7 linked regions of the Homo sapiens genome follow. The protein of the gene in region 4 interacts with the protein of the main gene of each other region in a pairwise test. Each region holds a gene or a part of one and is shown on either strand. Other genes may lie near its edges. The genes, in order: UBE3C, PSMA4, SUDS3, GOLGA2, SYNPO2L, ITPKB and EFCAB6.

The links.
Region 1: the proteins of GOLGA2 (region 4) and UBE3C interact in binary tests that used the Homo sapiens proteins (3 or more experiments, as listed by UniProt).
Region 2: the proteins of GOLGA2 (region 4) and PSMA4 interact in binary tests that used the Homo sapiens proteins (3 or more experiments, as listed by UniProt).
Region 3: the proteins of GOLGA2 (region 4) and SUDS3 interact in binary tests that used the Homo sapiens proteins (3 or more experiments, as listed by UniProt).
Region 5: the proteins of GOLGA2 (region 4) and SYNPO2L interact in binary tests that used the Homo sapiens proteins (3 or more experiments, as listed by UniProt).
Region 6: the proteins of GOLGA2 (region 4) and ITPKB interact in binary tests that used the Homo sapiens proteins (3 or more experiments, as listed by UniProt).
Region 7: the proteins of GOLGA2 (region 4) and EFCAB6 interact in binary tests that used the Homo sapiens proteins (3 or more experiments, as listed by UniProt).

The regions. Positions count from the first base shown.
Region 1 is NC_000007.14:157,145,426-157,148,925, reverse strand, and holds part of UBE3C (ubiquitin-protein ligase E3C), read right to left. Parts: intron 1-3,500. UniProt on the Homo sapiens protein: E3 ubiquitin-protein ligase that specifically catalyzes 'Lys-29'- and 'Lys-48'-linked polyubiquitin chains.
Region 2 is NC_000015.10:78,546,944-78,550,443, reverse strand, and holds part of PSMA4 (proteasome subunit alpha type-4), read right to left. Parts: intron 1,655-3,500; coding exon 1,500-1,654; 3' UTR 1-1,499. UniProt on the Homo sapiens protein: Component of the 20S core proteasome complex involved in the proteolytic degradation of most intracellular proteins. This complex plays numerous essential roles within the cell by associating with different regulatory particles.
Region 3 is NC_000012.12:118,407,555-118,411,054, forward strand, and holds part of SUDS3 (sin3 histone deacetylase corepressor complex component SDS3), read left to right. Parts: intron 1-3,500.
Region 4 is NC_000009.12:128,262,508-128,266,007, reverse strand, and holds part of GOLGA2 (golgin subfamily A member 2), read left to right. Parts: coding exon 1-38; intron 39-126; coding exon 127-220; intron 221-316; coding exon 317-423; intron 424-2,915; coding exon 2,916-2,974; intron 2,975-3,303; coding exon 3,304-3,445; intron 3,446-3,500. UniProt on the Homo sapiens protein: Peripheral membrane component of the cis-Golgi stack that acts as a membrane skeleton that maintains the structure of the Golgi apparatus, and as a vesicle thether that facilitates vesicle fusion to the Golgi membrane.
Region 5 is NC_000010.11:73,653,230-73,657,184, forward strand, and holds the start of SYNPO2L (synaptopodin 2-like protein), read right to left. Parts: upstream 2,801-3,955; 5' UTR 2,694-2,800; coding exon 2,589-2,693; intron 1,078-2,588; exon of another isoform or gene 1,052-1,077; coding exon 900-1,051; exon of another isoform or gene 810-899; intron 425-809; coding exon 1-424. UniProt on the Homo sapiens protein: Actin-associated protein that may play a role in modulating actin-based shape.
Region 6 is NC_000001.11:226,631,283-226,634,782, reverse strand, and holds the end of ITPKB (inositol-trisphosphate 3-kinase B), read left to right. Parts: coding exon 1-112; 3' UTR 113-3,093; downstream 3,094-3,500. UniProt on the Homo sapiens protein: Catalyzes the phosphorylation of 1D-myo-inositol 1,4,5-trisphosphate (InsP3) into 1D-myo-inositol 1,3,4,5-tetrakisphosphate and participates to the regulation of calcium homeostasis.
Region 7 is NC_000022.11:43,529,306-43,532,805, reverse strand, and holds part of EFCAB6 (EF-hand calcium-binding domain-containing protein 6), read left to right. Parts: intron 1-1,841; coding exon 1,842-1,991; coding exon of another isoform or gene 1,992-2,249; intron 2,250-3,500. UniProt on the Homo sapiens protein: Negatively regulates the androgen receptor by recruiting histone deacetylase complex, and protein DJ-1 antagonizes this inhibition by abrogation of this complex.

The sequences.
Region 1 (3,500 bases), on a different chromosome or scaffold from region 4:
TCAGAGCCAGGCTGGGGTTGGGTAGTGGCAAGCCTGGAGTTCCAGCTCCTCAGGAGGCTGAGGCAGGAGAATCGCTGGAGATCAGGAGTTTGAGGCTGCTGTGCACTATGATCATGCCTGTGAATAGCTACTGCACTCCAGCCTGGGCGACACAGTGAGGCCCTGTCTCTTAAAGGAAAAAAAAAAAAAAAAAAGAACTAATTTGATCTTAGAAAATATTTTGACTTTATTTGATGCCAGATCTGTAAGAAAAAGTTTTTATGTTCCACTACAATGTATATGGAGCATTATACTATCACATCCATTACACCTCTGCTTTTTAAAACAAAATAGCACAAAACATTTTAAGTTAAAATATTCTAGGTAATCCCTTCAATTATATAATAGAGGGCAGTTTTACAAAACTAGGTAATCCCTTCAATTATATAATAGAGGGCAGTTTTACAAAACTAAGCAATCAAGTTCTTACCATCTTAACAGTCTAGACCTATCATAGGGGAGGAATTAAAACTAGAGTAATTGAGGCCAAGCATGGTGGCTCACACCTGTAATCCCAGCACATTGGGAAGCTGAGGTGGGCAGATCACTTGAGGCCAGGAGTTCAAGGCCAGTATGGACAACATGGCGAAACCCCATCTCTACTAAAAATACAAAAAAATTAGCCAGGCCTGGTGGTGGGCGCCTGTAAGCCCAGCTACTTGGGAGGCTGAGACAGGAGAATCACTTGAATTCGGGAGATGGAGGTGGCAGTGAGATCGCACCACTGTACTCCAGGCACTCCAGCCTAGGCGACAGAGGGAGACTCTGTCTCAAAAAAACAAAATAAAACAAAAAAACTATAGTAATTGGTTTTGGTAGGCCCTAGAGTATCCTCATTCCATAAGGCCAGTATCACCCTAATACCAAACCAGACAAAGACATCACAAAAACACCCTAAATTGATGTCCCTCATCAAAAGAGATGCAAAAATCCTGAACAAAATATCAACAAGCTCAATCTAACATCGTATACAAAGAATTATGCATCACAGTCAAGTGGGATTTATTCCAGATACGCAAGACGGGCTCAATATTCTAAAATGACTTAATGTGATCCATCATATCCACAAGCTGCAGAAGGAAAATCACATAACATTAACAGATACAGAAAAAGCATCTGACAAAACCCAACCTTCATTCATGATAAAATTCTGCAAACTAGGAATAGAGGGGAATTTCCCCAATTTGATAAAGAATATCTACCAAAAAACCCACCAAACATCATACTTCATGATGAGAAACTCAAAGCTTTCCCACTAAGATTAAGAACAAGGCAAGTTCTCACCACTCCTTTTCAACTATAATCCTACCTAATGCAGTAAGACAATAAAACACATTGCTTTCTGATGGTCTTAGAAAAGAAAAAAGAAAAAAAAGGCATACAGATCAGGAAGGAAGAAATAAAACTGTCTTTGGTTGCAAATGAAATGATTATCTGTGCAGGAAATTCCAAGTATCAACCAAAAAACCACTCCTGGAACTAAGAAGTGATTATAGCAAGATTTCAGGACATAAGGTTAGTACATGAAAGTCAATTGCTTCTCTACAAATAAGCAATGAACTGGAATTTGAAACTGAAACACAATACCATTCACATTAGCACCCCTTAAAAATAAACGCTTAGGTATAAATCTAACAAAATAGGTATAAGGTATATATAAGGAAAATTATATAACCAATGAAAGAAATAAAAGAACTAAACAAATTAAGAGATATTCCATATTCATGGATAGGAAGGCTCAACACTGTCAAGATTTTAGTTTTTCCCAACTTGATCTACCAATTCAGCACAATCCCAATCAAAATTCCACAGGTTTTTTTTGTGAATATCAACAAACTGACTCTTATGGAGAGGCAAAAGATCCACAATAGCCAACACAATACTAAAGAAGAAGGAAGTCGAAGGACTCACACTACCAGACTTCAATGCTTACTATGGTTGGGCGCGGTGTCTCACTCCCGTAACCCCAGCACTTTGGGAGGCTGAGGCAGGCGGATCACTTCAGGTCAGGAGTTCAAGACCAGCCTGGCCAACATGGTGAAATCCAGTTTCTACTAAAAATACAAAAATTAACCAGGTGTGGTGGCACATGCCCACCCAGCTACTCAGGATGCTGAGGCAGAAGAACCACTTGAACCCAGAAGGCAGAGTTTGCAGTGAGCCGAGGTCACAACACTGCACTCCAGCCTGGGCAACAGGAGGCTCCCTCTCAAATTAAAAAAAAGTTTAGTTTAATATATATACTAAGTAGTACAGTTTACTACAGATCTGTTACAGTAATCAAGATGGTATGGTATTGACAAAAGGGAGAGAGATCAATGGAGGAGAGAATAAAGCCATAACAGAGCTTAGAAACAGATCGTAAAGGCCGGACGCAGGGGCTCATGCCTGTAATCCCAGCACTTTGGGACGCCCAGGCGGGCAGATCACGAGGTCAGGAGTTCGAGACCAGCCTGACCAACATGGTGAAACCCCCGTCTGTACTAGAGTAGCCAGGTGTGGTGGTGCACACCTGTAATCCTAGCTACTCGGTAGGCTGAGGCCGGAGAACTGCTTGACAGAGGTTGCAGTGAGCCGAGATTGCGCCACTGCACTCCAGCCTGGGAGACAGAGCGAGACTTCGTCTCAAAAAAAAAAAAGAAATAGATCCATAAAAATATAGCCAACTGATCTTTGACAAAGGAGCAAAGGCAGGCATTCAATGGAGTTGGGGAATGTCTTTTCAGAAATGGTGCTAACTGGACATCCACAAACAAAAAAACTTCAAAAATTAAAAATCTAGACACAGATTTTATATCCTTCACATAAATTAACTCAAAATGGATCAGAGACCTAAATGTAAAATACAAAATTATAAAACTACTAGAAAATACGAGAAAATCTAGGTTACCTTGGCTTTGGTAATGACTTTTTAGACACAACGCGAGAAGCAAGATCCATGAAAAAAACACTGGTGAGCTGGACTTCATTAAAATTCAATAGTTCTCCAATGTCACAAATGTACCACACAGATACAAGATGTAAATAACAAAGGAAACAGCGTGCAGCGGAGAGGAGGTTTTGAGGACTCTATTATAGTTTCCCATCAATTATTCTGTAAACCGTAAACCACTCTAAAAAAAAAGCTTATTAATTGATAAAAAATAAAGTAAAAAGAAATGAACTGTCAAGCCATGAAAAGAGCCTTAAATGCATAGTACTAAGTGAAAGAAACCAATCTGAAAAGATTACATAGTATATGATTCCAACTATATGACATTCTGGAAAAGGCTAGAGTAGAAACAGTAAAAAGATCAGTGGTTGCCAGGTGTTACAGGGATGGGAGGGATGGATGAATATGCAATGAGGATTTCTTCCTTTTTTCTTTTTTAAAAGAGTATCACTCTCGTCACCTAGGCTGGAGTGCAATGGCGTGATCTCAGCTAACTGCAATCTCTGCCTCTCGGGTTCAAGCAATTCTC
Region 2 (3,500 bases), on a different chromosome or scaffold from region 4:
TGGGAGGTCAAGGCAGGAAGACCGTTTGAGCCTGCAGTGAAATATGATCACGCCACTGCACTCCAGCCTGGGTGACAGAGCAAGACCCAGTCTCAAAAAACAAAACAAAACAAAAACATTCACGTAAAGAGCTGTTGGCTGAGTTCTATGTTAATGAATCCACAATACACATTTAAAAAGGTGTCTTTAAGTAGAAATACACAAAAAACAGGTTATGTACTGATCAGTTGATAAAAATGTGACCAGTGGCTTGTAGGACCCTAACCCAGTACTTTCTCTAGGTGCAAGAGTTCAGTATTTTGTTAGTTTTTGTGGTGACTTTAGAACATAACTACCAAAAATAACGAGAACCTGCTGTACAGAGTAAGAGAATAATTTAGAAGTTCAAAAAAGTGCTGCAAATAGGGCTTGTAAATACTTTAGCCTATACAGAAAACTGCAGGGAGCTGCATTAAGAAAATCTACAATGAGAAATTAGACTGGGAGCACATATTTGGTTGACAACAGCTGAGAGAAGGGTAAATGATGGCTCAATGCACTCACCCTAGCTGATGGAAATCACCTGAAGAGTTTAAGCAATGTTAATATCTGGGTTCCACCACAGAGCTTGAGTTAATCGATACAGCATGCTTACAAGCTGCAAAAGCTTCCTAGGTGATTCTAATATGCAACAAAAACTTCTTAAAGTTTTACTTAGCATTCCTAAGAATCACATGCAGAGCTTGTTAGAACAGATTACTGGGTTTCACCCTCAGAGATTTTAATTCAGTAGATCTGGGATGGGACATCAGAATCTGCATAGGTGATGCTAAAGCACCATGGCTACGCATTAAGTACCACTGCCCTGTATCACTTCTGTCATGAAGCCACAGATAGCCAAGGGAACTCAGGTTGAACAAACCCCAGCAACAGAGCTCCCTTCAGCCAACACGTAACTGTTCTCATCTCTTGGTTCCACTTTTCCTCTGTGGCCTTAACTTCTACACCTCATCTTCCGCGCAGCTTGAGCTGCTGCCTGTGGGCAGCCTCAGTCCTAGCTGCGAGATCCACACCCACACATCAATTCTGGCTTTGTTCAGCTCACGTGTTCATTCTCAAACCAATTCCTGCAGACAGAGACGAATAATCTGGCCAGCCTGAGGAACGTGCCCATCTTTGTGAAAGGACTGTAAGCCACAATGTGCAAAAAGTAATCGCCCTGTCAGTTTTTGTATATTTAACAATTACTGCTACAGAGAATTTATTCCTTCATTTCCATTTTCCAAATTTTATTCCAAAAAAAGGGGATGTGTGTGGAAGATTAAGACGTCCATGAAGGGTAACCATCATCGTTACAATAAAGTATTCAATTGGACAGAAATGACAAGGACCCAATTCAGTATGTAATGTCCTATTTTCCCACTGCACCAGTTAAAAAAAGTAAAGCCTTCCTAGTGTGGAAGAGTAGGACTGCTTTTACACTGAAATGGTGCCCCAAATGAGTAATAAAATCTCTGATTCTATTTATCCTTTTCTTTCTGTTCTTTTTCTTTCTTCTCACGCTCAGCTTTGGCTTCTTCTTCCTCATGTTTTTTGATCAACTGCTCCACTTCTTTTTGTTTGAGAACTCTGATTACTGTCTTTCCATTCTCTCTTGTTAGTGTTGCAATTTCCACTAAAAACAAACACATACATTTATTTGTATTGCAGGCAGGCAGGCATACTTAGCAGAGAAGCTTAATAGGCACTCATGGTTTATGCTCGCCACATCATTGAAACGTTAGTTCAGCACTCTCCTATGTTTTATACTTAACATTATTCCCTTTTATGAGAACAATATACTTTTGATCTTGTAATGTTTTAATTATAATTTTTACTTAAATATCGTCTCCTCAGCCATTTTGTCACTCCCTTAGAAAAAGTATAATCAACCAATTGCTATTGCCGGCCTGCTATTAGCTGTGCTGATTAGACGGAACTGTTGGAACCTCTGAGGGCTCAGCCAGAATCTTCAACTGGTAATAACAGCTTATTTTTTATGGACTTTTCAAGTCTCTTAAAAAAATAAATAAATAAAAGGCATGAAATGGCCAAGAAAAGCAGACTGATACCTAAAGGGGAAGGAATTTTTTTGTACCAGGGAAACTGAGTAGTGCTTCCTTGAAACTGGGTGGAAGTAGACAAAAGAGGGCAATCTGCATGTAAATGACATTTTCTTTTTCTTTTTTTTTTTGAGATGGAGTTTTGCTCTTGTTGCCCAGGCTGGAGTGCAATGGCGCAAACTCGGCTCACTGCAACCTCCACCTCCTGGGTTCAGGTGATTCTCCTGTTTCAGCCTCCTGAGTAGCAGGATTACAGGTGCGCACCACCACGCCCGGCTAATTTTTTGTATTTTTAGTAGAGGCAGGGGTTTCACCATGTTGGCCAACCTGGTCTTGAACTCCTGACCTCAGGTGATCCACCCACCTCGGCCTCCCAAAGTGCTGGGGATTACAGGCGTGAGCCAATATGCCCGGCCGTAAATGGCATTTTCTAAGGAACACCAGGAGCTAAACTGTCCTAACATAAAGCAACATGTTAATTTACCACAATTTCTGAAAAACATTTAGAAATATTCTTTTTTTTTTTGAGACAGAGTCTCTCTCTGTCACCCACGCTGGAGTGCAGTGGCATGATCTCAACTCACTGCAGCCTCCGCTTCCCAGGTTCAAGTGATTCTCCTGCCTCAGCCTCCCAAGTAGCTGGGATTTATAGGCATGCACCACCATGCCTAGCTAATTTTTGTATTTTAAGTAGAGATGGGGCTTCACCATGTTGGCCAGGCTGATCTGGAACTCCTGGCCTCAGGTGATCCACCCACCTCAGCCTCCCAAAGTGCTGGGATTACAGGCATGAGCCACCAAGCTCGACTGAAATATTCTTTTATATAGTCATATAGCTTAAGTTGAACAAGGTATTTGGAATTGCTAACATGAGCTTAAAATAAGAGATTAGTAGATTAAGAAGAACAGGAGAGGGTATCACAACCCACGCAAATGTTGTATCTCTGGTAAAGTATACCAAACCTATGTATAAATATATAACTACATACGTATGCTTTATCATATATACACACAAGCAAAGATATCATTGATGAGAAGACTTGATAACTGTTAACTAAAAGTAGCACAGTGCAGGATGTCTATCTGTGAGTAATGAGATTGTTCAGTATCAAGCCTTTAAGTTTGGAATACAGTGTGAGATTGTGACTCCACAATTTACCAATGTTGATCTTGGTCAACTCACTTAACCTCATTAAGCCCTAGTGTCCTCAGTTAGAAGACAGGGATAACATCACCTAATTCGTAAGGTTGCTGTTTCAATGAACTAGGATGACATGTTAAAATCTTAACAGTTGCTGGCTGGGCGCAATGGCTCACGCCTGTAATCCCAGCACTTTGAGAGGCTGAAGCGGGAGGATCACCTGAGGTCAGGAGGTCATGACTAGCCTGGCCAACATGGTGAAACCCCGTCTCTACTAA
Region 3 (3,500 bases), on a different chromosome or scaffold from region 4:
AGTTGAATTTCTTGGGTTTGGGTTCTAAGTACCACTGAAGGAAAATACAATGCATCTCATGAGAATTGTTGGAATAGCCTTCCAGAGTCAGCTGTTTTCTTTAAAAGACCTTTGTGAGGATATGATACATGGATACACATGTAACATGTATATGTGTTATTTTTGGTTTTTTTTTTTTTTTTGAGACAGAGTCTCGCTCTGTCGCCCAGGCTGGAGTGCAGTGGCGCAATCTTGGCTCACTGCAGACTCCGCCTCCCAGGTTCAAGCGATTCTCCTACCTCAGCCTCCTGAGTAGCTGGGACTACAGGCACACGCCAATATGCCTGGCTAATTTTTTGTATTTTATTTATTTATTTATATTTTTTGAGACAGAGTCTCGCACTGTCACCCAGGCTGGAGTGCAGTGGCGCCATCTCAGCTCACTGCAACCTCCGCCTCCCGAGTTCAAGCTGTTCTCTCCCTCAGCCTCCCAAGTAGCTGGGACTACAGGCACCCGCCACCACGCCCAGCTAATTTTTGTATTTTTAGTACAGACGGGGTTTCACCATGTTCGCCAGGATGGCCTCTATCTCCTGACCTCGTGATATACCCGCCTCGGCCTCCCAAAGTGCTGGGATTACAGGCGTAAGCCACTACGCCTGGCCAATTTTTTGTATTTTAGTAGAGACGGGGTTTCACCTTGTTGCCCAGGCTGGTCTCGAACCCCTGAGCTCAGGCAATCCACCCACCTTGGCCTCCCAAAGTGCTAGGATTACAAGCATGAGCCACCATACCTGGCCAGTTTTTTTTTTTTTTTTGAGACAGAGTCTCGTTCTTCCAGCCAGGCTGGAGTGCAGTGGCATGATCTCAGCCCACTGCAGTCCCTGCCTCCTGGGTTCAAGCAATTCTTGTGCTTCAGCCTCCCGAGTACCTGGGATTACAAGCGCACACCACCATGCTGGCTAATTTTTGTAATTTTAGTAGAGATGGGGGTTTCACCATGTTGGTCGGGCTGGTCTTGAACTCCTGACCTCAAGTGATCCACCCACCTCGGCCTCCCGCAGTGCTGGGATTACAGGCGTGAGCCACTGCACCCAGCTGTAACATGTGTATGTTTTATCATAAACACAGGAACATAGTTGACATAGTTTTTTTTGGTTTTTTTTTTTTTACCTACCAGTATATGGAGCATGTTTCCACACTCGTAATATTCTACACCACATCCATGACCTTTCTTTATTAAAGTGTTTAGAAAGTTGTATCAGAATGACTTGAGGGTAGTTGCATTTTGTTTTGTGTCTTTATCTCTTTAATAACTTACAGTCCCTTTAGAACAACTGTGAGTATTCTCCCTCTGTATTTTTATTTTAACCATTACTCAAGACATGACTGTTTACATAGGAGAGCTGGCTCAGATGTGAGAGAGAAACAAGGGGAAGTGTTAGTGTTAGTATGAACTTAGCCTTTTCTTATGCATTGTACAGTTCGGCCCTTGTGATAATACATATTTAGCATAATGAAGGTCCCCTGCCAGTTTACCAACTAATAAAGGGCCAAAAGCAACTTTAAAACTTGCATTTAAACCATTCTCGCTGTTCTAATTGAATTTAAAATTCTTTTTTTTTTTTTTTTAAGATAGAGTCTCGCTCTGTTGCTCAGGCTGGAGTGCAGTGGCATGATCTTGGCTTGCTGCAAGCTCCGCCTCCGGGGTCAAGCAATTCTCCTGCCTCAGCCTCCCGAGTAGCTGGGATTACAGGAGCCTGCCACCACTCCCGGCTAATTTTTGTGTTTTTAGTAGAGATGGGGTTTCACCATGTTGGCCAGGCTGGTCTCGATCTCCTGACCTTGTGATCTGCCCACCTTGGCCTCCCAAAGTGCTGGGATTACAGGCGTGAGCCACCACGCCCGGCCTAAAATTCTGTTTCTTTTAACAGTATTTTCAGAAAGTACATTGACTTGGAAACCTGAGTTTTCAGTTCATAAGTAGCAGGTTAAAGAGAATTGAGACCCTAGACTGGAAAAAGCTCATTATGGGAGTGAAGTGCATCCTTTACTTGCCATGTCTTGGCAATAGGTTATTTCCTTATACCAGCAAAACAGAATAAGCCATCATGCTTTGCTGGGAGATGTGTTTTACTAAATTTACACGAGTTTATGGGTCTGGTTAGCCAGATCTTTGCAGCCAAAATGAACCAAAGTTTATGTTATTAATCGACGTGGGGCTGGCCCAGGCCAGGGTTGCTAGCTGCAGCTCCGCTGATACTTCCAACTCTTGTAATCCAGCAGGGGCTCCTTCATCCTGTGGCAGCTGCTTTTGTCCCATTTGGGCTTTGGCCCCCAGCAACTTCACTTTCATCCTTGGCCTTGTCTCTGAACTTGTAGAAATAAGAAGTGGCCCTACACTACAGGTTGAGAGTAGATGCAGGAGTTGAAAGGGGAGTGTCTGTCTTATCTACTGTATTCAAAGCAGCTTTCCCAACTGTCCAGGCCAAATTAGATACCCTTTGGTATACGTCATGGCACTTGGAACTTTGCCTGATTAGCTGTTACCAGGTGTGGTTATTTAATGTTCCTTATCCCCAGTGTATTTGAATCTCTGTGATAGTGGAGAACTTGTGGCCTTTCTCACTGTTTGTCCCCAGCCTCCAGCATAGTCCGTGGTACACAGTAAGTGCTTAATGAGTATTTTTGAATGACTGACTAAAGGGTTAAAGTCAGCCTTCCTTCTTGTTGGTGACTGACTTGGACAAATAGAAAATAAATAACGGTGGCTTATGCCTGTATATTTTGTCTGTCCAACCTTCTTCAGTGTTCTGGTGTGGGGTCAGAAAGGGGAAACAGAGTTTTTATTTAACAATTTTTAATTTACTTTTTGAACTGGGTCATATAGTCCAAAAAAAGGGAAAAATACATAGTTTTCCAACACTTTCCTCAGCCTTTTCCCTTCTGTAGAGGGACCAAGGAATATAAGCTTTAGATCCCAAAGAAGATTAGGTGGTCTTCTAACCTAAGGATGGAAGCCTTTATTTATTTATTTATTTATTTATTTTATTTATTTATTTATTTATTTATTTATTTTTTGAGATGGAGTCTTGCTCTGTCGCCCAGGCTGGAGTGCAGTGGCGCCATCTCGGCTCACTGCAAGCTCCGCCTCCCGGGTTCACACCATTCTCCTGCCTCAGCCTCCCAAGTAGCTGGGACTATAGGCACCTGCCACCATGCCCGGCTACTTTTTTTGTATTTTTAGTAGAGACGGGGTTTTACCGTGTTAGCCAGGATGGTCTTGATCTCCTGACCTTGTGATCCGCCTGCCTCGGCCTCCCAAAGTGCTGGGATTACAGGCTTGAGCCACCGCGCCTGGCCTCAGGATGGAAGCCTTTAAATTAAGCTAAATGGGAAATCCAGGCTATTCCTCAAATGTGAATTATTAAGACTTCTTTAATTATAATTTTTGTTGTGATGGTGTTTTTGTTTTGTTTGGTTTTTACTTCCTGTCTCTGTCCCTCCCTTTTTAAAAATGT
Region 4 (3,500 bases):
GCCACCAAAAGCAGGGAGCCCTAAGGGAGCAGTTACAGGTGAGTGGAGGGTGTGAAGTTCCGTCCTGTCCTCTGGAGAATGTTTCTTTCCTTCTTTTTCAGCACTTGCTTGGGTTTCCTCCCAAAGGTTCACATTCAGACCATAGGGATCCTCGTATCAGAGAAAGCTGAGTTACAGACAGCCCTGGCTCACACTCAGCATGCTGCCAGGCAGAAAGAAGGTGGGAATCTGGGCACCCCATCATCCTTCAACCTGGCACTTTGACAGGCCTTTAGGGGGAGTCCTTTGGGCCCCATCTCAACCTCTCTCATTCCAGGAGAGTCTGAAGATCTGGCCAGCCGCCTGCAGTATTCCCGGCGGCGTGTGGGAGAGTTGGAGCGGGCTCTCTCTGCTGTCTCCACGCAGCAGAAGAAGGCAGACAGGGTGAGTCCAACTGCCTGCCCCGTCCCCTGGCATACTGGCTTCCCAGATGGAGGAGTGAGCCTAAAGGTCCCTTCTGCAGGGTTGACTGTCCTGCCTAGAAGGCAGCATGGGCCATTTATCACTGCTTTTGTGTGTGGTTGCTAGAGGCATCCTGGGGCTGAGTCAGCTGCTGTGGGTGAGTTTGGGGGCACTGTGGGGAGTGAACACTGGACGCAGAGCTCGGAGGCCAAGTGCCCGCTGTGCCGTTACCTGGCTGTGGCCTTGGTCAAGTCCTAGGTGGGGGAATATGGTACTTGTACTGTGAAGGTACAGAAGAGTATCTTTAGTATGTTACCATTTGTGTAGAGAGAGGGAACGTGTGTGTGTATGTGTACCTATGTACTATGACAATATACATAAAACGTGTCTGCATGGATTCATAACAAACTCAGGAGAGAGGAACAGCACGGCTGGAAGATATTTCCCTTCTGCCCTTTCGGAGTTTTGGACTATCTGAATATATCATCCTTTCAAAAACTGAACAAAAGATAATTTCCCCCTTCCTATTTGTGCCCCCACCCTCGGGGAACAAATGAGCTTAGAGAGTCAGATATACCTGGGTGTTCAAATCCGAGCTCTGTCTAAGTGATCTTAGGCAAGCACTTAACCTCTAATATTCCGTGTTGTCCATCTACAAAATAGAGGTAATAATAGTAACTGTCTCATGTGGTGGTTATGAGGATTAAATGGGATTGTTAGCATGGTGCCTGGTGAAGCATTCAATAAAGGTTCAAACAGTGGTAGTAATAATGATAATAACAATAGCAATATTATCTGATCTCTCTGGGCCTCTGTTAGCCAGCTGTAAATTCGATCTTGGCCAGGTGTGGTGGCTCATGCCTGTAATCCCAGCACTTTGGGAGGCCGAGGCAGGTGGGTCAACTGAGGTCAGGAGTTCGAGACCAGCCTGACCAACATAGCAAAACCCTGTGTCTACTAAAAATGCAAAAAATTAGCCAGGTGTGGTGGCGTGCCCCTGTAATTGCAGCTACTTGGGAGGCTGAGGCAGGAGAATTGCTTGAACCCGGGGGCGGAAGTTGCGGTGAGCTGAGATCGTGCCACTGCCCTCCAGCCTGGGTGACAGAGGGAGACTCTGTCTGAAAATAAATAAATAAATAAATAAATAAATAAATAATAACAAAAATTAGCCAGGCATGATGGCGCATGCCTGTAATCCTAGGTACTCAGGAGCCTGAGGCAGGAGAATCACATGAACCCGGGAGGCAGAGGTTGCAGTGAGCCAAGATGGCGCCACTGCACTCCAGCCTGGGTGACAGATGGAGACTCCATCTCAAATAAATACATATATACATACATACGTACATACATAAATTCGCTCTCTCTCCCTGTTCCTTCCACCCTTACCAAGTCCTTTTTTTTTGAGACGGAGTCTCACTCTGTTGCCCAGGCTGGAGTGCAGTGGCACCATCTCGGCTCACTGCAAGCTCTGTCTCCCGGGTTCATGCCATTCTCCTGCCTCAGCCTCCCGAGTAGCTGGGACTACAGGCACCTGCCACCACGCCTGGCTAATTTTTTGTATTTTTTTTTTTTTTAGTAGAGATGGGGTTTCACCGTGTTAGCCAGGATGGTCTCGATCCCCTGATCTCGTAATCCGTCCCCCTCGGCCTCCCAAAGTGCCAGGATTACAGGCGTGAGCCACCGCACCCGGCCACCCTTACCAAGTTTTTTTAAAAACAAATGAGACCAGCCGGGTGCCGTAATCCCAACACTTTGGGAAGTTGAGGCGGGCGGATCACTTGAGGTCAGGAGTCAAGACCAGCCTGGCCAACATGTTGAAACCCCCTCTCTATTAAAAATAAAAAAATTAGGCCAGGCATGGTGGCTCACGCCTGTAATCCCAGCACTTTGGGAGGCTGAGACGGGCGGATCACAAGGTCAGGAGATCGAGACCATCCTTGCTAACACAGTGAAACCTCGTCTCTACTAAAAATACAAAAAAATTAGCCGGGTGTGGTGGCGGGGGCCTGTAGTCCCAGCTACTTAGGAGGCTGAAGCAGGAGAATGGCATGAACCCGGGAGGCGGAGCTTGCAGTGAGCCGAAATTGCGCCACTGCACTCCAGCCTGGGCAACAGAGACTCCATCTCAGAAAAAACAAAACAAAACAAATTAGCCGGACATGGTGGTGCACGCCTATAGTCCCAGCTACTCAGGAGGCTGAGGCAGGAGAGTCACTTGGACCAGGGAGGCAGAGGTTGTGAGCTGAGATCTCACCACTGCACTTCAGCCTGGGTGACAGAGGGAGACTCTGTCTCAAAAACAACAACAGCAACAACAAAATGAGACCATGGGCTTGGAAATGCCTTGAAAACATGTCAAGTGTGATTGAGAGTGAGGAAGTGTTACTGTGGAGTACTTACTGTAGCTGTTGTTACTGGTTGGCCAGCTGCTCCTCTGCCTGCTATATCCTGACTTAACCTTTCTGTATTTACAGTACAACAAGGAGTTAACCAAAGAGAGAGACGCCCTCAGGCTGGAGTTATACAAGAACACGTAGGATGGGGGATGGTGGGATGGGAGGTCTGGGGGCCCTCAGCATGGGTGGTGTGCTGGGAGGTGGGGGGTACAGGTAAGCATGATGAGGTAGTCATAGAGGTGTGCATGTGTGCCCAGCAAAGCTCTAGTGCCAGCTGTGCCACTGACTCATGGTGTAGCCTTGGGTAACTCGTATCTTTTCTCTGGCCTGTACATGTGACTTTTGATTCCTGGGGTTCCTTCCAGTGCCACAGTTCTGTGGTTGTGGGGCAAGGGTAGAGGGTGGATCACCAAAGCAGTCCTTTCTGTTCTTCGTTCATTCCTTTCTCTACTGCCTCTGGCCATAGCCAAAGCAATGAGGACCTGAAGCAAGAGAAATCAGAATTGGAAGAGAAGCTTCGGGTCCTAGTGACTGAGAAGGCTGGCATGCAGCTTAACTTGGAAGAATTGCAAAAGAAGTTAGAGATGACGGAACTCCTGCTTCAACAGGCAAGAGGCTGCAGCCCCATGGGTGGTGGGAGCGCCATCCAGCTGGGGCCATGGT
Region 5 (3,955 bases), on a different chromosome or scaffold from region 4:
AGGTCGGAGGGGGCCATGGGGTAACAGCAGAGCCTCAGCTGGGGGTGGCTGAAGGGCTGCCCCATCCTCCCAAGACGGGGAGCTCACACGGCTGTCACCCTGGCTGGGAGGGCCAGGGATAGTAGGTGCTGGCTCTGCAGGGCTGTCAGACAGGTAGACCTCATCAGGTGGGGCACCCGGAGGGGTGGGCCTTGTGGGGCCTCGGCGGCGAGGTCGACGGGGCTTCTCCTGGGTGGCAGGGCCATCAGCATCACTGTCAGTCTCTCCGTAGTAAGCCTCACTATCAGGAGGTGAACGAAGGCTCCCAGGCTGAAGAGGCTGAGGAACTGGAGCACCAGGGGGCTCAGGACTTAGTGGAGATAAGGGTGACAGCACCTGAAGCTCATGGGGAGATGGAGATTGCACAGGACCCTCGTCTGCTAACCTGGATAGGAAAGATGACAGAGCTTGAGAGATGGGCTGGGTACTGACAGCTAGAGAGATCTGGAAGGGATGGAGGGAAGAGGTAAGGGGGAGGGAAGAGGTAAGGGAGAGAGAAGGCTGTCATACAGTTGGAATGGGTGGGCCGGGAAGAGTGGAGATATGAAGACAAACTGGGAGGCAAATGTGCTTGAAGGGCTGTGAGTGGAAATAGGCTTAGAGGAAGATGTAATGAGGAGGAAACAGGCCAGGGGTTGAAGTAGGCTCATCAGTCAAATACCCACTGACATCCCCATCCCTTAATTGCAGATACATTCAAGCCCTCTGGGAGGCAGACACAAACCATCTGCACTCCAGCAGAAACGCACGAGCAGAAATAGGTACCTGTTAGTTGCTAAAGCCAGGCCAGTGAGACATAGAGCTGAGACAGGCAATGGGAGCCCTGGATTAGGGGAAGAGAAGAGGAGAGAGGTCCATACCGCTGCACAGTGAGGACAAGCTGATTTCCTGAGGCATCGATGAGGCTCATGGCACTGGCATGGGAGAGGTTGGTGCAAGAGACCCCATTGATTGCCAAGAGCTGGTCCCTCTCTCGGAGTCCTGCTCTGCCAGCCTGGCTCCGTCTTCGAATCTGAGATGTTGAAGGAGACACTGTAGGTAAGAGGGGGCTCCAAAGGGAATAGAATGAAAGGAAAAGATGGGAAGGACCCACAGGAGGGGATTTTACTTTGCAGGGTAAGAAGGGTGGGGAGATGCATGGAAGTGGCTGCAGTTGAAGTGGCCTGTCTAGAGGGAAGAAAGTATACAGACTGGAGAAAGAAATACATCATATGGTGGGAAATAGGGTAACCATTGAATGAAAGAGGCTTGGGAAGAACTGCATGGGGTAGGTAACTAGAAATGGTGGTTATTGGCTGGGTGCAGTGGCTCACGCCTGTAAGCCCAGTGCTTTGGGAGGCCTAGGTGGGTGGATCACTTGAGATCAGGAGTTTGAGACCAGCCTGGCCAATGGGTGAAACGCTGTCTCTACTAAAAGTACAAAAATCAGCTGGCCGTGGTGGTGTGCGCCTGTAATCCCAGATACTTGGGAGGCTGAGGCAGGAGAATTGCTTGAACCCAGGAAGCAGAGGTTGCAGTGAGCCATCATGTCACTGCACTCCAGCCTGGGCAACAGAGTAAGACTCTGTCGCAAAAAAAAAGAAAAGAAAAAAAACGGAAAGAAATGGTGATTATCTCCACAAGCTTTTTCTCCAAGGGCAATATCTATATTGGCTGGTAATTCTCTACTAGGCCTTGTAACCCCAGGCGCCATTACACAGTCAAGATTTTAGAACAGTACTCCAGGTTGGAGGGAGTCCAGCGGTATTCTGGGAGATTGTGATTATTTGGGTATATGTGTGCCATGTATACACACAAATGTATATATGCCAAAGTAATAATAGTAGTAGTGGCTACCATTTATTGAGTTCTTACTAAGTGTTGGGCACTGTGCTACATGTATTATTGCATTTAATCCTTAGAATGGTTCCATGAAGTAGGTACAGGTACTATTATTACCCACATTTTACAGTTCGGAAAACTAAGCCTGTAGGGTGAAACCAAAAGGATAATGACTTCATCTGTGAGGCCAGATCTTGCCATAACCCTCCTAGCACCTAAAAAAGTCTTGCCTAGTGAGAGAAAGGATCTGACCTAGGGAAAGAGCACTGAAGGCATGGGCAGGGCAGGGTGAGGCAGGGTAGGGCTGGGCTGGGCTAGGCTGTTCGAGGCAGTTTCAGTTCATCACATATCAGTTTAGTCAGAGAGAAATTAGAACCTTCCCCGTATTTCTGGAGTTTGGAGTAGAGGCACATACCCAAGAGAACAAACACTGGATGACCAGAGCTGGGCCTCTGATACCACAGTGCTGCAGGGAACTGAAGCAGAGCCTTTCCTTTTCCTCTGCTCCCTGGAAACCGCGAATTCTCTTTTCTAATAGACCCCCACAGGAAGCCTGTGGTCAGACGCTACTCCCACTATGAGACTTGAGCATACTTCCCTGCCCACCACCCACCCCATCTTCACAGCCTCCCACCCCCCCAACCCCCGCCATATGCCACCACACATCTCTTCCCAGGATCCCTTGGGTTCCCTTTCCCTGAAGCCTCATTTCAGGGGCTCTCCCTTACCTTAGACACCTGTAACGGTTTCCTCTGCTCGGCCCCCCCATGAAGTCGGAAGCCCCAGGGGGCTCCCCCTGATAGTGTGACCAGCACCTCCTCCTCAGCACCCATCGCTCAGCTTGGCCTATGGCCCCCGGAGTTTGAACAGTGTCCCCAGGAGAGAAGTTGAGGTGCTCGAACCCCGTCTGGGCTTCCTGTCCGGCTGTCCTGCTCCTGCTGCCCCAGGCCTCCCCCCCACACCACACACCACAGGCAGGCAACTTGGCCCTGGGATCATTACAGTCCAGCACACATGTCCCGTCAATCGCAGATGTGCTCAAAATAGATGCCGCTTGTACTCCCCTCCCTCCCCCTTCTGTGTTACTCCTAGAGCTAATTATAGTACAAACTTCTGCCCTCCATGTTCCCAATTCTCCTGCATGGGCCTTTTATTCAGGACTCAGAATACAAACTCTCTGGGCTCTATAACCAATGTACACCCTTTCAGGAACTGTGCCTTCTCTAATAGGACCATGGGCTAATCTCAACTGCTTTCCTCCAAAGACCCTTTCAAAGTGGCAGCAGCAGGGGCTTCAATTCCATAGCTGGCAAAGAATGGCTGGGCTTGCTCCAAGATCCCAGGAAAGAATGCACTCTCGCTATATAAATTTATCTGTTAATTAATAAATGGTGGGCCAGGCATGGTGGCTCACGCCTGTAATCCTAGCACTTTGGGAGGCCAAGGTGGGTGGATTGCTTGAGTCCAGGAATTTGAGACCAGCCTGGGCAACATCGTGAGATGGCCCCCCATCTCTATTTTCTTATTATTAAAAAAAGTTAAAAAAAAAAACCAAAAAACTATAGGCTGGGCACGGTGGCTCACACCTGTAAACCCAGCACTTTGGGACCAAGGTGGGCGGATCACGAGGTCAGGAGATTGAGACCATCCTGGCTAACACGAGGAAACCCCGTCTCTACTACAAATACAAAAAATTAGCTGGGCTTGGTGGCAGACGCCTGTAGTCCCAGCTACTCTGGAGGCTGAGGCAGGAGAATGGCGTGAACCCGCGAGGCAGAGCTTGTGGTGAGCCGAGGTCGTGCCACTGCACTCCAGCCTGGGTGACAGAGCGAGACTCCGTCTCAAAAAAAAAAAAAAAACAAACAAACAAACAAAAAACTATAAAAAAACAAATTACCTATTGCAATACATACGTGGTCATGGAAAGGTGTGTAGGTGTGCATAAACATACCAACCCATGTTAATACAATCTCTACTTGTCTCTAGGTTTCCATTACGAGAATGTCTCTGTTACAAGGCATAACATTATGGTGCTATAACTGTGATTATCAAAGGCTACAGAGTTTCATAAAATAGCTGCCCACCTAGTGTATGC
Region 6 (3,500 bases), on a different chromosome or scaffold from region 4:
GCAGCATGACGTCCCCTGGCAGGAGGGGAACCGGGAGGATGGCTACCTCTCGGGGCTCAATAACCTCGTCGACATCCTGACCGAGATGTCCCAGGATGCCCCACTCGCCTGAGCTGCCCACGCCCTCCCTGGCCCCCGCCTGGGCCTCCTTTCCTCCTCCTGTGCTTCCTTTCTCGTTCCTAACTTTTCCTTCACTTACACCTGACTGACCCTCCTGAACTGCACTACAAGACACTTTGTAGAAGAGGAGATGAGAGTTTCTAGTCATTTTCCTAACTTCAGGGCTTGGAGGTGGTGTTTGCACTGCTTTTTGTAGAGAGGGTCACCTACTAGAAGAGAAATGCCCAGTCTTAGAGGTGGGTCAGGTGTAGAGCTGGAGGGGGTCCCTGGCTGCTGAGGGGACCCTACCAGATGAGCCCTGCCTCTGGGAGCCCCCTAGGAAGCACCAGCCTGGACCTACCACCTGCGGAGGCCTGCTGCCCCCTGGCGGCCAGTGCTGTTAGAGTGCTGCCAAGCACAGCCTTATTTCTGCCGGGGCCTCCCCACCGGAGAGCCCAGGGGGCCGGCCGGGTTCCTGGTCCCTGGCTGGGAGCAGGGCTTTCTGGTAGTTGGGGCACAAAACCATCGGGGAACCACATGTTGACTGTGAGCAAAGTGTCTTCCGATTAGCAGCCTCAGGGATGCCCTGGTGGCCTCTCCAGGGCTGCTCAGGCAAGGCCCCCCACCCATCTGGTATGGAAACCTGCCGGCTCCAGGCCAGACCCAGGAGCCAAGAGAAGGCTGAAGCCAGCTTGGCTGTGTTCTCTGATCTAGGCCTTCCCAGAGGAGGCGAGCAGAAGCTGTGCCACTTGGAATTGCAACCCATGAGTTCAGAAGGCACACTCTGCCATGCTGAGCTCCAAGGGTGCTACCAGGGGAAGATGGGATCTATAGAGTCTCTGGGCCCTGGCCCCAGGGAGGAGCACATTTTTCTTGACCCTCACCTACCTGGTGCTAGTTGGTCAACCCTGCCTGCATACATGGGCTCCTGTCATGGGGCCCAGAGTCCCTTGCAGATATAGAAATAGGGGAGGAGCTCAGGTCTGCGCCAGGCAGGAAGAAGGCAGGCTTCTGGCTTCCAGAGGTGCCGCGGTGGCCTCCTGGCATCATTTGTTATTGCCTCTGAAACAAGCCTTACTGCCTGGAGGGCTTAGATTCCTGCTTCTCCAATGTAGTGTGGGTATCTTGTAGGGTATGTGGTGGATGCCAGGGCGTGCTCCAGGCACCTCTTCCTGAAGTCTCTGCATTTGGAGATTCGTGGAGAACCTATTTAAGCCCAATTTTAACTGAAAGCCAGTGAGTCTGATATGGAAGGGAATGTAAAATTTGCCTGACTTCTTAAGAACAAAACCCCCAGCTCTGTGCCCCATGCTCCTTGGGGCTTGCCACCCACTCCTTTGCTGTCAGAGGTACAGGAGCTGGGAGAGTCCAGGAGCTAGGGACACAGAGGGAGACTATGGACCAAGGTGTGTGTGTCTGGAGGAACCACTGCCCACCCCACCACCCCGGGGTCTCTGGGGAACTGTCAACCTGCCCACGGGACATGTACATTTCCCCTTTTGTGCTGGAAGTGTGAGTGACACTTGCTGGGGGTGGAGGGTGGGACACATGAGGATGTATAAGTACAGATTTTAAAAAAGGAAATCAACTTACACTTCCTGGCTCTTGTTTAAAACAGTGGTGAGCTCCTGTGTGGGCCGACTTGCTAAAGGTCACACACGCGCCCGGTGGAGCACGAGAGACCTCGTGGCAGCATGTGATCTGGAAGGCAGGCAGGACGGGGGCGTTGGGGAGCCAAAGTCAACTCTGGGCCTCTGGAGCTATAGTGACTTTTGGGCTAGAAGGGACCCTGGTGGTCTGTGCTTCAGCCATTTGCAGGGCAGGGGCATCATTAATTCAGACGTAAAGATTCTATGAATATGGACTGGCCAAAAGTTATCCTTACTCCATCTGTGAAAGAAGTTTGCTAAAGCAAATCATGATATGAACAAAAATTACAGGGGACCTGTTTAAGAGAACAAAATGTTCCAAGCACTTTAGGCAGACACCAGCTGTTTGCAAACAATGTGCTAATATGCAAATGATGTGCTTATTAAAGGAGGCCCATGGGGCCTCTTATTGGCAATACTTGGCTGTGGGTTACATTAAATATGTGAACATAGTATGAAGTAGCATCATTTTAGGGTTATTCTGTTACTTAGGGTTTTTGTTTTCTGTTTTTTTTTTCTCTTTTTTTGTATTTACCGTGCTAGTTCTCTTCTACACCTACTCTGTCTCTCAAGCCATTTTGCCACTCGCTTCCCTGCCATCTGGCCCTTCCCTTTGTCTCAGTGGGATAGATGGATTGTGAAATGGAATCTCCCAGAACCCCTGCCCTGGCAGCCTGGAAGACCGTGCCTGCCCAGCCCTCGTCACCACAGGGACTCCTTGGGTCCTGGCAGTGCATGTGCCAGCAGGCAGGACAAACTCTGTGTACCTGTGCCCAGGTGAATGGGCGCAGGGTCCTCTTGCCCTGTCCTGCGGGGGGCCCCACGAGTTCCTGGCATTCAGCACTGCTTAGCATTCTCGGAAGGTTTCTTCAACTGCTTGCTTTTCCCAGGCTTGCCTTTAGTGTCATGTAAGACATTTTTAAGTTATATTTATTTTGTTGGGTTTTAAAATTGCACAGAACACTAAGACCGAAAGGCTGGACTCTTGTTTCTCCTTGAAAGCTTTGCCTTTGTTTTGAACTTCCTTTCCCACTTGGTAGAAAGAGCCCAGAAGCAGCCCTGGCCCTGTAAGATGGACTCTTTCATCCTTCAGTTGTATTTAGCTTTGAGTTTCTCTGCATCTGTCCACCCCATGTGTATATAACCCAGCCCCTGGCTCTGGGGTGGTCACCTCGTCAGTGCCTTTTGTTCTGGAGGAGAGGACCCCCCCCGCCTGCCGAGAGGCTCTCTTCCTGTTCTGCACCCCTCTCCCCATGGGACCTTGGAGAAAACTGAACTGTTACAAACCCCTGCACAGTGCCTGTCAAACAGATGCAAACCTTCCTGAATAAAGCCTTGGAGACCAGCGCTGTCTGTGGTGTGATCCTTCTGGCCCCCAGCCCTGAGACCTGGCTGAGGGGCAGGCTGGGGAGTCTTAGGAAGCTAGAGGGCCCACATGGGGGCTGTTAGGGGAGTGGGTGTCAGACTGGGTAACATTTTAATTTGTAAAGAATATAAACCACTCTCCAAAATGAGTCTTTTCAACCCTCATGAAACTTTGAAATAGTAGCTCAGAGACTAGAACATCAACCAAGAAGCACTGTCCCCAAGTAGGGGGGTCTCCGGTGCAGCGATCGCTTCTGGGGCCTTACTCTAAGCTAGACTGGGGCTGAACACGCCCATCGGAGTTCCCGTTTTACCCAGATCAATTCCCTGAACAAAGATTTATAGTCTGTTTTACAGATGAGGAAACTGAGGTTTAAATGAAGCAAC
Region 7 (3,500 bases), on a different chromosome or scaffold from region 4:
CCACCCAAGGGCCACACCTGCCTGGGCCACAGTGGTGAGACTCTAGGGAATGGAGAGTGGGTTAAGCCAGCCACAGTTAAGTAGATGCCATGCAGAAAGTTTCTTCACAGCTAGTTTTGCAATTTTGTGCAAAATCAGGTTCCATCTTAGCCTAGCTTCTAGTTTAGACAAACAGGAGCTAGTATCAAAAGCTTAGACCAAGTTTACAATAAAAAAAAAAAAAAAGACTTTAGACAGTTCTGCCAGCTCAGTTCTTCTGTGCACAGAGAAAAGACTGTCCCCATTCCATCTTCACGGGAGCCACGAACGTGGAGAACATGGAGACACGTGGCAGCAAGGCCGCCATCAATTCCATCCTTCCTCCGCCTCCCTGGGCCTCAGTTTCTCCTTCTGGAGATCTGTGGAGGCTCTAAGACCTTGCTAGGACGTGCACGGGCTTCTGCGGAAGAGCACACCAGTGCCGCCTTCTGAGCCCTCCCCAGTGAAAGGGGCCACCCCAGTTCCCAGCTTCCAGCTGCACTGTCCGTCCTCAGCAACCCCGCAAAGCTGGGGTCAGAGTGGGGTCATGCTAGGTGCTGCGGGTCAGCCCACAGAGACTGTGGCACTCTCCCCCCGCCCCTCCCAAGGCACCACTCTGTGGTTCCGAAGAGTTCTCCCGCCCCCACTCCTCAAATCCCTGCACCAGACCGGAGTGGATTGAGATTGAAGGCTTTTCAGGAGAGAGTAGGCTCCTGACATGGTCCTGGTCACAGCCCTTGTCCCATCTGGCAGCTGCCAAGGCCACCACCATGTAAGTGTGGAGGTCAGGTCAAATGTCTCCCTGCAGAGGAGCTAAAAAGGGGACTTCATTTTCTGGTGATTTGGGAGCTTTCTCCACCCCATTAGGCAGCAGAAAGATGTCCTCGGGGGAAGGCAGCTTGGGTGCCGCCCCTCCCTGCAAGGTGGGTCAGAGGTGGGGGCTCTGGCCGGGCTGGTGGTCCTGCCCTGTGATGTGTGGTGTGGGAGGTCATGTGAGCCCCACACCCTCTCTTCCCCACCTGTGGATCAGCTGATTGGGCAAATTGGCAGCTCATGAAGTCTTGGGTACCTGGGGAGCACACATCATACGTGCCAAATGATGTAAAAAAAAAATGAAAGCAGCTTAACCCTGTGCTCATCTGTCTTACATAGTGTTATGTTAAAATTCAACTTTCCCAAGATGTGTTACGCATTGTTGCCTACCGTTCACCTTTGTGATATTCAAACACATTGGGGCTAAATCATGTTCAAATGTCTTGTTTTCAATCTAATAGCACCTAAATGAAGTAATCACAGTGTAGTGTTCTAATTACTAGATATAATTACAACCTTGTGAATTTTTTTTAACACTGTTCATTATAATAACTTACTAGAAAACACAGACTGAAATCTCTTTTTTTCCTCAAACTATTTTCAAATTGGCCCATATCTGCCCGGCCATCTCGTTGCATTCCCTGGGAGGTGGTGTGGCCTGAAGTGTGTTGGGGTCAAAGCCCAAGTCACTTTACCTCCCCGAGTCTCCACTTCCTAATCTGTGAAGTGGGGATAGAGACCTGCCTTCTTTCCGGGTTGCCAGTGGGGAGGTGTAAATGAGATGGCTGATGTAATACACGTTTTTAAACAGCCCACACAATGGTCAGGGGGCGGGTGCGCATCTTTGTGACGAGTTCTGGCAGGCTCCCTCCTCGATTCAGAGCCAGCGGAGCAGGTTGGGAGGTGAAGCCGGAGCAGGGCTGGGCGAGGCGGGGGCGAGGCGAGGAGGAGCCCACCCCAACCCTCGTGTTCAAAAGCTCCCTCCTCACCCCTTCTTGTCTTGTGTCTAGAAAGAAGCCGGCGCGGAGACGCCATCTTTTTACTCTGCTCTGCTGCGTATTCAGCCCAAAATTGTGCACTGCTGGAGGCCAATGCGGCGCACGTTCAAAAGCTATGATGAGGCTGGAACAGGGCTGCTAAGCGTCGCAGATTTCAGGACGGTGAGCACAGCTCTGCGCCCAGTGCCTCTGCAGGGAGCAGCTGCCAAATGCCAGCGGCCAGAAACTTCCCACGGGGAGCCCTCTACCTGCTGCCGAAGGCCCGGTGTGACCTGGCTGCTTCAGATCTCACTTCCCTGGGACCCCCAAGTTATCCAGTCCTGGGTCCACTCGCCTCACCTTCAGACCCCGGGTTCTCCTTCCCAAAGGTTGCTGGAGCCCTGCGTGGATGCCCCATACCTGCATCGCCAGCTCCTCAGGGTCAGTGCCTGAGCCCAGGTTCCTTAAGGCACTGCCATCACTGCTGCTGCTGCTCCGAGCCCTCTCCCCACACCTGGGCTCTCCTGCAGGCTCTGAAGAGCATCTCTGACCTATGTTGGACCTTCCAAGGGGCCTGCAAAGTGAGCCCTGCCCCTGCAGTACACAGCGGGGCTCCACCATTGGGCATCTGCCCTGATGTCCCTGGGTGCCCTCCATGTCCCACCCCCAGAGCCTAACAAACACCCCGCAGTGGTTTTCCAATCCACATTCACGTTCCTCTTTCCTTCGGGGTTAAGTATAAATCTCAGTCAGGGATTCTCCCTATCCCTCATGCAAAGAAAGGAAGGAAGTAGGGCAGGTTCTGTTATTCCCTTCCGGCAACTTCCCAGGAATTCGGGCGTGGTGCTGGGAAGGTGGCAAAAGAAACCTTGCCCTCCACAGAGTCACAGATCAGATGGCGTAATTGAGGGGCCGTCTCAGACACCAGGCTCAGCTTCCTTTTCTGCCTTCATCCCATGGGGCCCAATGGCCAGGCCTGCTGACCTCAGCCCCATAGGACCTCTGGGCCATCTAGCCCTGCTTTCCAGTCTCCTCCTAGAAACAAGTTATAACGCAAATGTGGATAGGAAATGTATGGCCTCATCTTTATATACTATGAGGGTCTGTCAGGATTTGTTTCAGCTTCACATAATGGGGCGGGGAAAATAGCAGCTTAAGGTGAAAGTTTATTTCACTCCCACATAAAAGAAGTCCAGAGGTAGGAAGGTCAGAGCTGGTGTGGTGGCTGGACAATCATCAGGGACCACATTTTTGCTCTGCTGTTCTCAACTCCTGGCTTCCTTCCTCTAGGCCACCTCATGATCCAAGGTGGCTGCTGGAGCCCCAGCATCACAGCCATATTCCAGGCAGCAGGTGGAAAAACAGGAGAGAAAAGGGCATGCCCCTCTCCTTTAAAGGAGGCTTCCTGGATGTTCTACATAACATTCTTACTTAGCTTCTCAGGCCAGAACATACCTAGCTGCAAGAGAGGCTGAGACATGTTCCCGGTTAGCTGGATACAGAGGAGCTGGGAGAGAGTCAGGTTCTATAACTGAAGAGGAAGGGGCAGTCAGTATTGGGTTTACCACCAGCAGGCTCTGCTCCAGGCTCTGTTACGGTCTTATCACAGCAACTCTCTGCACTCAGCACCCACTGGCCCTGCCCTCCCCTGCCTGGGCGCACCCTGAGGCTCTGCCCCAAGTTAGGGCTGCA